Linked DNA regions of Homo sapiens. The protein of the gene in region 1 purifies or fractionates together with the protein of each later gene. This does not show direct contact. Each region holds a gene or a part of one and is shown on either strand. Other genes may lie near its edges. The genes, in order: RALGDS and KDR.

The links.
Region 2: the proteins of RALGDS (region 1) and KDR purify together in Homo sapiens (pull-down; one study listed by IntAct). This does not show direct contact.

What each region holds. Positions count from the first base shown.
Region 1 is NC_000009.12:133,114,717-133,118,526, reverse strand, and holds part of RALGDS (ral guanine nucleotide dissociation stimulator), read left to right. Parts: intron 1-3,810. UniProt on the Homo sapiens protein: Functions as a guanine nucleotide exchange factor (GEF) activating either RalA or RalB GTPases and plays an important role in intracellular transport. Interacts and acts as an effector molecule for R-Ras, H-Ras, K-Ras, and Rap.
Region 2 is NC_000004.12:55,108,505-55,112,314, reverse strand, and holds part of KDR (vascular endothelial growth factor receptor 2 precursor), read left to right. Parts: intron 1-1,546; coding exon 1,547-1,661; intron 1,662-1,748; coding exon 1,749-1,912; intron 1,913-3,810. UniProt on the Homo sapiens protein: Tyrosine-protein kinase that acts as a cell-surface receptor for VEGFA, VEGFC and VEGFD. Plays an essential role in the regulation of angiogenesis, vascular development, vascular permeability, and embryonic hematopoiesis.

The DNA.
Region 1 (3,810 bases):
CTGTTAAGAGCTCACTTGACAGATAAAGTCACTGAGGCAACAGAGGTGAATTAGATTGCACAGAGTGACCAAGCTGGTCAGTGGCAGGGCCAGGATTCTGACCCAAGGCCTGAGGGCAGTTGCAGGTGGGCTGGAGTGAAGAGGGCTTCTCTGTATTCACAGGGAGCATCTCCCTTCAGCCTCCCGCGTCTTCCCACTGTTTGATCTCTTGATCACACTGTGTGCAGGTCTTCGGTTTAATCCCCAGGGCTCATGAGCACTTTGACACTGAAGACCCCAAGGCAAAGGGCCTGTCCCTGTGTGGGTGTGTGTCCCTGCATGCATGTGTACAGACTGTGGTCTTCCAGGAGAGCTTCCTGGGTGACTCTGAAGGGGCAGCCCCCAGGACCCTCAGGTTCCCCTCTTGCTCTACTCGGGAGGGTCCCCCAGAAGAGGGGGACCAGGCTGGCTGGTCCTGGGTCTTTGTTCCTTCTCCAGGCGGGGGATGCTCAGGCATGCTGGCCTGTTTCCCGGGAGGCTCAGGAATGGCCCTGGGAGATATCAAGCTGCTCGTTGCCAGAGCTGGGGTCTGATTCTTAACCTGGAAATTGGGCATTTCCAGGACCTGTCTGCGTTGCCAATGAGAAAAGAGTGGGGAGATTTATCACTGGCCCTCTGCAGGCAGGCTCTGAACGAGCCAGTGGAGCGGTTTCAGGAAGCTGCACCCAGGCAGTCAAGGACTGGTTCCCAAGAGCTGCTGGTTGGCCGCCCAGATGGCTCCCATGGCGTGGTGCCACCATGCTGTGGCCACCCAGTCCCAGGGTTGGACTTCCAGCCTTGCAGGCCCAGAATCACTGTGTTCCCAGATATACAGCAACAGCAGAGCAGTGTTCCCCATTTGATTGTTAAGGGGCAGACACTGATGCATGCAGCCTCATGCAGGACAAGCTGAGCTTTGAGCAGACCCAATTCTCCCAGTTCCGCACACCTTGGCTGCCCACGGGCGGGGGAGGCAGTGGGATGGCAGCCCAACAGTGGCTTGGCGGGCGGGGCAGGACACCTGCGTTGGAGGGTTTTGGCGTTTTCCTCCATGGGGAAGCTTGCATGCTTTGGCAGCCTCCCCTGTAGTCATTCCTGGAGACTTTTGTCCATCTCAACCGAGGGGCAGGGAGCCTGGGCTCTGGAGAGAAGAGAGCTATGCTGGGATGCCAGCTCAGCCCCCTAGCAGATGTAGACGTGCTCCTGAGCCTCAGTTTCCTCATCTGTAAAATGGACATGATGCCAGCTCTCCTGTTAGGGTTCTGGTGAGGACCCTCGAGTTAGACAAGAGACCTGAGGAGCAGCCTGCACAGCACTTGGCACAGTGGACAGGTAGCAGCTGCCACAATGAGGTTTTCTGATTAGGTGCCAGGGGAGCGGCCTGACCCTTCCAAGTGCCCTGGGCTCCTCGGGTGCGTCACCTGGCACCTTCAGCATGGCACTTCCCTGGCCTGGTGTCTTGTAGGCCTTTTGCCCAGGGCACGTCCACAAACCTCTCGGAGATGCAGGTGCTAGAAAGCTGGCCCTGCCACCCTCCCCTGCGAATTTGCTGTGTGACCTGAGGAAATCCTTCCTGTCTCTGGCCCCTCCTCCACATCTGTGCCACAAGGGGCTGGACTCTGCTCCAAGCCTGAGACCATGGCAGAGGCAGCGCCAGGCCTGGGTGGGTCCCAACAGGCCAGGGTTCAAATCCCTGTTCTGGCTGCCACGTCCTGGCTCCTGACCTGGGCGAGTTCCTCTCAGGCTGTTTCCTTGTCCATCAGGCAGGGCGTTAGGAGGATTAAACGTGATGGGTGTCCAAAGGGCCTTGCACCCAGGAAGTGCCCGCATGTGCTGGGCACTGTAGCTGGTTAAAGTTGGGGCTGCCCTGCACCCCCTTGGGACCAGCCCACCTTCCTCCTCAGCTGCCACCAGCCACGCCCCTCCCGGGCCTGGCCCTGTGTTCACCTGACTGTCAGGGGCTGGGCGTGGACAGGGACCCTGGATGCCCAAGGCTTGCGGCTGACCTGGAGGTCTGGTTCTCCCTCCTCCTGCTTGAGGCACGATTTTCCCATCAGTGAGTAGCAGGGCACAGGCCGGCAGGGAGGGTTTCTGGAGAGATGGGCCGGCCTTTGCGGGGCTCAGCACTGGTTGGTTCCCAGCCTCCACTTTCTGAGGCCAGGGAGCATCCTGGTGGGCAGGCACCGCGTGTCGTCCCGGTCTGAGGCCGCCTCTGTGGGCTGCCATGCCCAGGATCAGGAGTGTGGCCCACCCACACCCCGGGCTGGCCTCCTGTCATCTTGATGCTTTGTCTGTGCGCTGGGGATCAGGGTTGGGTCCACCCACCTGGAGCTGGAGGGCAGGCCCGAGGGCAGGAGGGTCACGGACACGGACACGAGGCCCTTGCGTTCCACCTCCCTTGATGGGGCTCATGGTCCGAGCTCATGACTTGAGAAGTCCTGGGCTCTCACCTCTGGCTCAGCCAGCACACGCCCCACCGGCTCCTGTCCTCGGGCATGGGTCCCCACCTCTGTAGGACGGAGAAGGGCACAGCAGCGTGGGCCCCGCACTGTCGCAGGAGCCTGGGCTCTGTAGAGAGCGAGCAGCCTTCTGTGATGCGTTTTACGTTTGGCTTCTGTATTGGAGCGGAAAGCTGAAGTCAGAAAGCTGCTCCCACCCACTGGGTTTCAGGGTGACTCAGCCTCTCTTTACAGTGTCCCTCGGCTAGGTCCCTGAGCCTTAGGCAGGCCTCAGACAAGTTTCCCTCAGGTTTTTACAGCCCAGCATCCGTCGCCGGCCCCAGGGGGATATGATGTCAGGTGTTGTCCGGTACCACGCCATCAGGTCCCAGTGCCGGTCACCGAGCTGTGTGCATTCTCTCTTGACCCCCACTGTTGCCTGTGACAGGTAGTGCTGCCCTCCCCAGATGACACACCAAGGCCGAGGGCCAGGGGCTGGGCAGAGCCAGCGAGAGACAGGGAGCTGCTGTCTGGTGGGCCAGAACTGTGAGGTGCTGGCAGGGGGGTGGCAAGCACCCCGGGGTGACCTCTGGTGACTGGGACCTGAGCAGCAGCTCAGAGGGGCTTGGGAGGTCCCCCAGGACAATCTCACGCACACGGAGGCTCTGCCGTGAGCCTTTCCACACACAGGCCCGGGGAGGACCAGGGGCGGAGCAGGCCGAGGTGCAGGCTAGAGCCCTCTCCTCACTCCGCTTCAGCCCTCAGCCAGGTCTCCTTGGGAGGGGCCGGTGAGTTCCTGGAGCCATCCATGGGGCAGGGGGCCACTAGCTACGGTTTCCAAGGAAAGGCGTCTGAGTCCGGAGCTGCACCAGAAGGCTGATGCTGGGAGGAGGTGCCGTTGGCCTGAGCGGGGAGATGGCAGGGCTGGGGCAGGCCCCGTAGGGTTCCTCAAGACCCTCACTATTCTACCCAGAGGGAGTCTGGGTTTGGCCTGTGGCTTCCTCCTTCTGTCAGCCAGGGACACGGCATCCTGCTGGCCTGTCACTCTGAGAAGGCTGATCAGGTGACACACTCACCAGACACCACCAGGCCCTGTTTCCCATCCTCATCTTCAGGGCTCTGGGCTGTGTCCCTGGAGACATTGGGGTGTGGGGGCCCCTGCTCACCGGGGACCCCATGCCACCCTCACTGCACTGACCCAAATGTTAGAAGGCCAGACAGTGTGTTTACAGGCACAGCTGCCGACTGGGTCCCAGAGCCCAGGGACATCAGCATGCCTGCTAGGGGTGGGACAGGAGTGTCCCTTGAGGACACAGCCAAGCACGTGGTGTTCTTTTCTCCTCCTAGCAGTCAG
Region 2 (3,810 bases), on another chromosome or scaffold:
GTGGATCATCATAAAGGTCTTCATCCTTGTCTTCACGTTGAGTAGGCTGAGGAAAAGGGGGAAGAGGAGGGGGTGGTTTTGCTGTCTCAGGGGTGGCAGAGGTGGAAGAAAATCTGCTTATAAGTGGACTCATGTAGTTCAAGTTTGTGTTATTTAAGGGTCAACTGTAATTGAACTGGAATTAAATTGAACTGGCCTTGAGAAAATCACCTTAATTTTTTGTTTATTCTCTTTCATTTACATAAATGTCTGAGTTTACATGGTAATTTGTGTGGCATCCTACTTATAAGCCTTGGAAAGGATTTTGGAGTTTATATTATGAGAATGCATCAATACAGTGAAATTTTAAAAATACCTTAGATAATGCTATTTATTAGAGTTGTAATCATAAAAGTGGCAACAACTATAACAAGTATGATTTAGTGAGCACTTACTTTATTAGCTCATCTCATCTTTGAAGCTGAGATTGGAACTCAAGTTCCTGACTACAAAGCTATGCTCTTGACCTCTAGGTCACGTGGCATCCCTAGCAAGAACTTGAAAATTTCTTCTGAATGAACAAAATAGAAATCACTAAGTGTCCTAAATTTATTTAAATTATTTCACTTGCCAAGATGCACTTGTCAAAATACACAGAGAGAGATGTGCTCTGGCTTATGTTTTTATAGAATTACTTTTGTTTTCCAGAATACTTCAGGGAAATAGGGGCAGAAATAAGGAGGTCAGTTGGGAGGCTAATTGCAGTTATCCAAGTGAGAGTTGAGGGGTGGCTTAGACAAGGGTAGTTGAGGTGGAGGTAGTGAGAGGTGATCTGCTTCTGGATATATTTTGAAGGTAGAGTCAACAGGGTCCGCTGATCAATTCATTGGTTGTGGAGTATAAGAGAAAAAGAGTGGAAGATGACTCGAGCGTTAGCATGAGCAACTGAGTAAATGATGGTGTTATTTACTGAGATGGCAAAGATCGAGAAGGCAGTGAGATTTAGGGAAACAGTGTTAGATATGTTTATCTGGAGATGCCTGTTAAACATCCAAGTGGAGATATTTAACATATCAACCCGGAACCCAGAGGAGTCAGGGCAGAAGATAACACATTTAGGAGGTACGTGAATGATACTTTAAACCTGAGGCTAGAGGAAGGTGTAAATAAAGAGGAGGTCTGAGGACTGAGTCCTGGGGCCTCATGGTGGAAGAGGTGTGTGGAGGCTGTCATGGGAGCAGAGGAGAAGGAGCACCCAAGCATCCCTGGGGGACTTAGAGAAAGCTGCACAGAGGAGCAAGTGTTTGAGTTGAGACTTGAGCAATCACTAGGCTTGTGGGAGTGCACTAGCGGGGAGAGAAAAGCAAATGCAAACACAGGAGGTGTGGGAGAAACACGGGAGGTGTGGGAGAAGCTGAAAAGTGACCCACTGAAAGATAGTACAGGAAATCTTGGAACTGCAGCTACTCAGACCCTCAAGGTCTTTGACGTTTCACTTGAAATGAAAAACTAAATCAAATGACCATTTACAGTAAGTTGACCTTTTTTTTTTTTTATTTTCTTCCAGAAAAACCTTTTGTTGCTTTTGGAAGTGGCATGGAATCTCTGGTGGAAGCCACGGTGGGGGAGCGTGTCAGAATCCCTGCGAAGTACCTTGGTTACCCACCCCCAGAAATAAAATGGTAACTACTGGAAATAAATGCAAAGCATCATTTCGTGTGAGAGCAAATCCTTTGACTATACTAATTCCTGAGAATTTTTTTTCATAGGTATAAAAATGGAATACCCCTTGAGTCCAATCACACAATTAAAGCGGGGCATGTACTGACGATTATGGAAGTGAGTGAAAGAGACACAGGAAATTACACTGTCATCCTTACCAATCCCATTTCAAAGGAGAAGCAGAGCCATGTGGTCTCTCTGGTTGTGTATGGTGAGTCCATTCAATTTTCCTCTCTGCCCAAGATTTATTATGATACATTGTCTTCCAAATCAGCCAAACCACCGTTCCTCTGCCTCCTGCTGCTTCACTCATATCATGGCTGGGCCTGCGTACAAAAGTCATCTGGCGTGGTGAAGCTGAAGTGAAACGTAGGACCATGTGCTCTGGCCATGTTTGTTTAAGAGGCCGTGTAAATGAGCTTTGTGGTGGACAAATGCAAGATTAAAGTAGTGATACCCTCGATAGCTAAATGTTGTGAAATAAGAATGCCCACAGGGACAGTTGTCAAGCTAAGTTATACTACCATGTTCCCCTCTCATGGAATTGCCCACCTGGTACACAGATGTGTAAGACCCTTCTCCTTAGATTTTGTGCAAAGCTTCTAGTTTGATGTTGTAGTTGATGTATCAGAGATGTGCAGGCACGTTCCAACTCTGAAGGCTTTTGAAGTTGACACTGTTGGCTTGGTTGGGAGCTTTTCTTTTTTCCTTTTTGACAGGAGTTCAGGATCTGATTTTGAGTCTGTAAAGGAAAGATAGTAAGTTTTTGATGTAAAGATAATTTGAACTTTGTTTTCTGAAACTGAAAGGTACAAATAAGTGTTTGGAATGGAGTGGGGAGAAGGGTGCCATGGTCAAGTGAGTGTGAGAGGTGCTAAGGTGATGTGTAGATGTGTAACAGGTTTCTTTATTGCAGGACTTCGCAGAACCTTTTATATGCTAATGTATATTGGTATTCTCCAGGAGGAGAGACATAGAGTATTCAAGGTTTAACAAACCTATTTGACCAGAGCACCTTTTTTCCCCTGAGCAAATTCATTAATCTCTCACTCCAAACAGTTTGAGAAATGCTTCTCTGTTGTAATTCTTTGTTCCCCCTTCTGGTACGGCATATTAAAACTTCAGGATATTTTCCCATGACATTAAGGTGCTTCCCTACGTGTCCTGATACTCTTCTGTAGGCCGCTGAACTTGGCTTTATTATTTTTTTTCAGGGAATATTTTAAAGATAGGCTGGGTGCCGTGGTTTGCATCTGTAATCCCAGCACTTTGGGAGGCCGAGGCGGATGGATCACCTGAGGTCAGGAGTTCGAGACCAGCCTGGCCAACATGATGAAAACCCGTCTCTACTAAAAATATAAAAATTAGCCAGGCATGGTGGTGGGCACCTGTAATCCCAGCTACTTGGGAGGCTGAGGCAGGAGAATCACTTGAACCCAGGAGGTGGAGGTTGCAGATAGCCGAGATCGCACCATTGTACTCCAGCCTGGTGACAAGAGCAAAACTCCGTCTCAAAAAAAAAGTTAACAGGTTCCAAAAAGGTTGTTTAGAAGCAGCATAGGTGTAGGGGACTGGGGAGAGGAGAAACTGGAAAGTGTATAAGTAGGATGGGAGGAGGAAATGAACAGGAAATAAAAACAAAACACGGACAGCAAATAGCCCATTTCATCAGTTCATGAAGCCACTAAATATTTTATTCACTTTAGCAAATTCTCTGCTATATGAAATAAACATAAAAAAGAAGTCAAGTCTTCAAAGCATAATCTGAGGCTTTAGGTTGACAGTAATAAGGAAATAGTTTTGACTTTGGAGTCAAAAAAGAAAGAAAGGAAAAAGGGAGAGAAGAAAGAAGGAAGTGAGAGAAGGGAGAAGGAAGAAAGGGGAAGAGGGAAAGGGAGTGGAGAGGGAGGGAGGGAGGAAGAGGGAGAGAGAATGAAAAACTCAGATGATGGTGGCAGGAATGCATTCTCTAAAGATTTACACCTTCCTTTAACATGAGGTGGTTTACGTGTTTGGGTTCAGAAGTCAGAGTGTCTAGGTTTGTTCCAGGTTTTGCCGTTCGTTAACTGAGTGACCTTGGGCGAGTCATTTTTTTCTGTTTCATTTTTT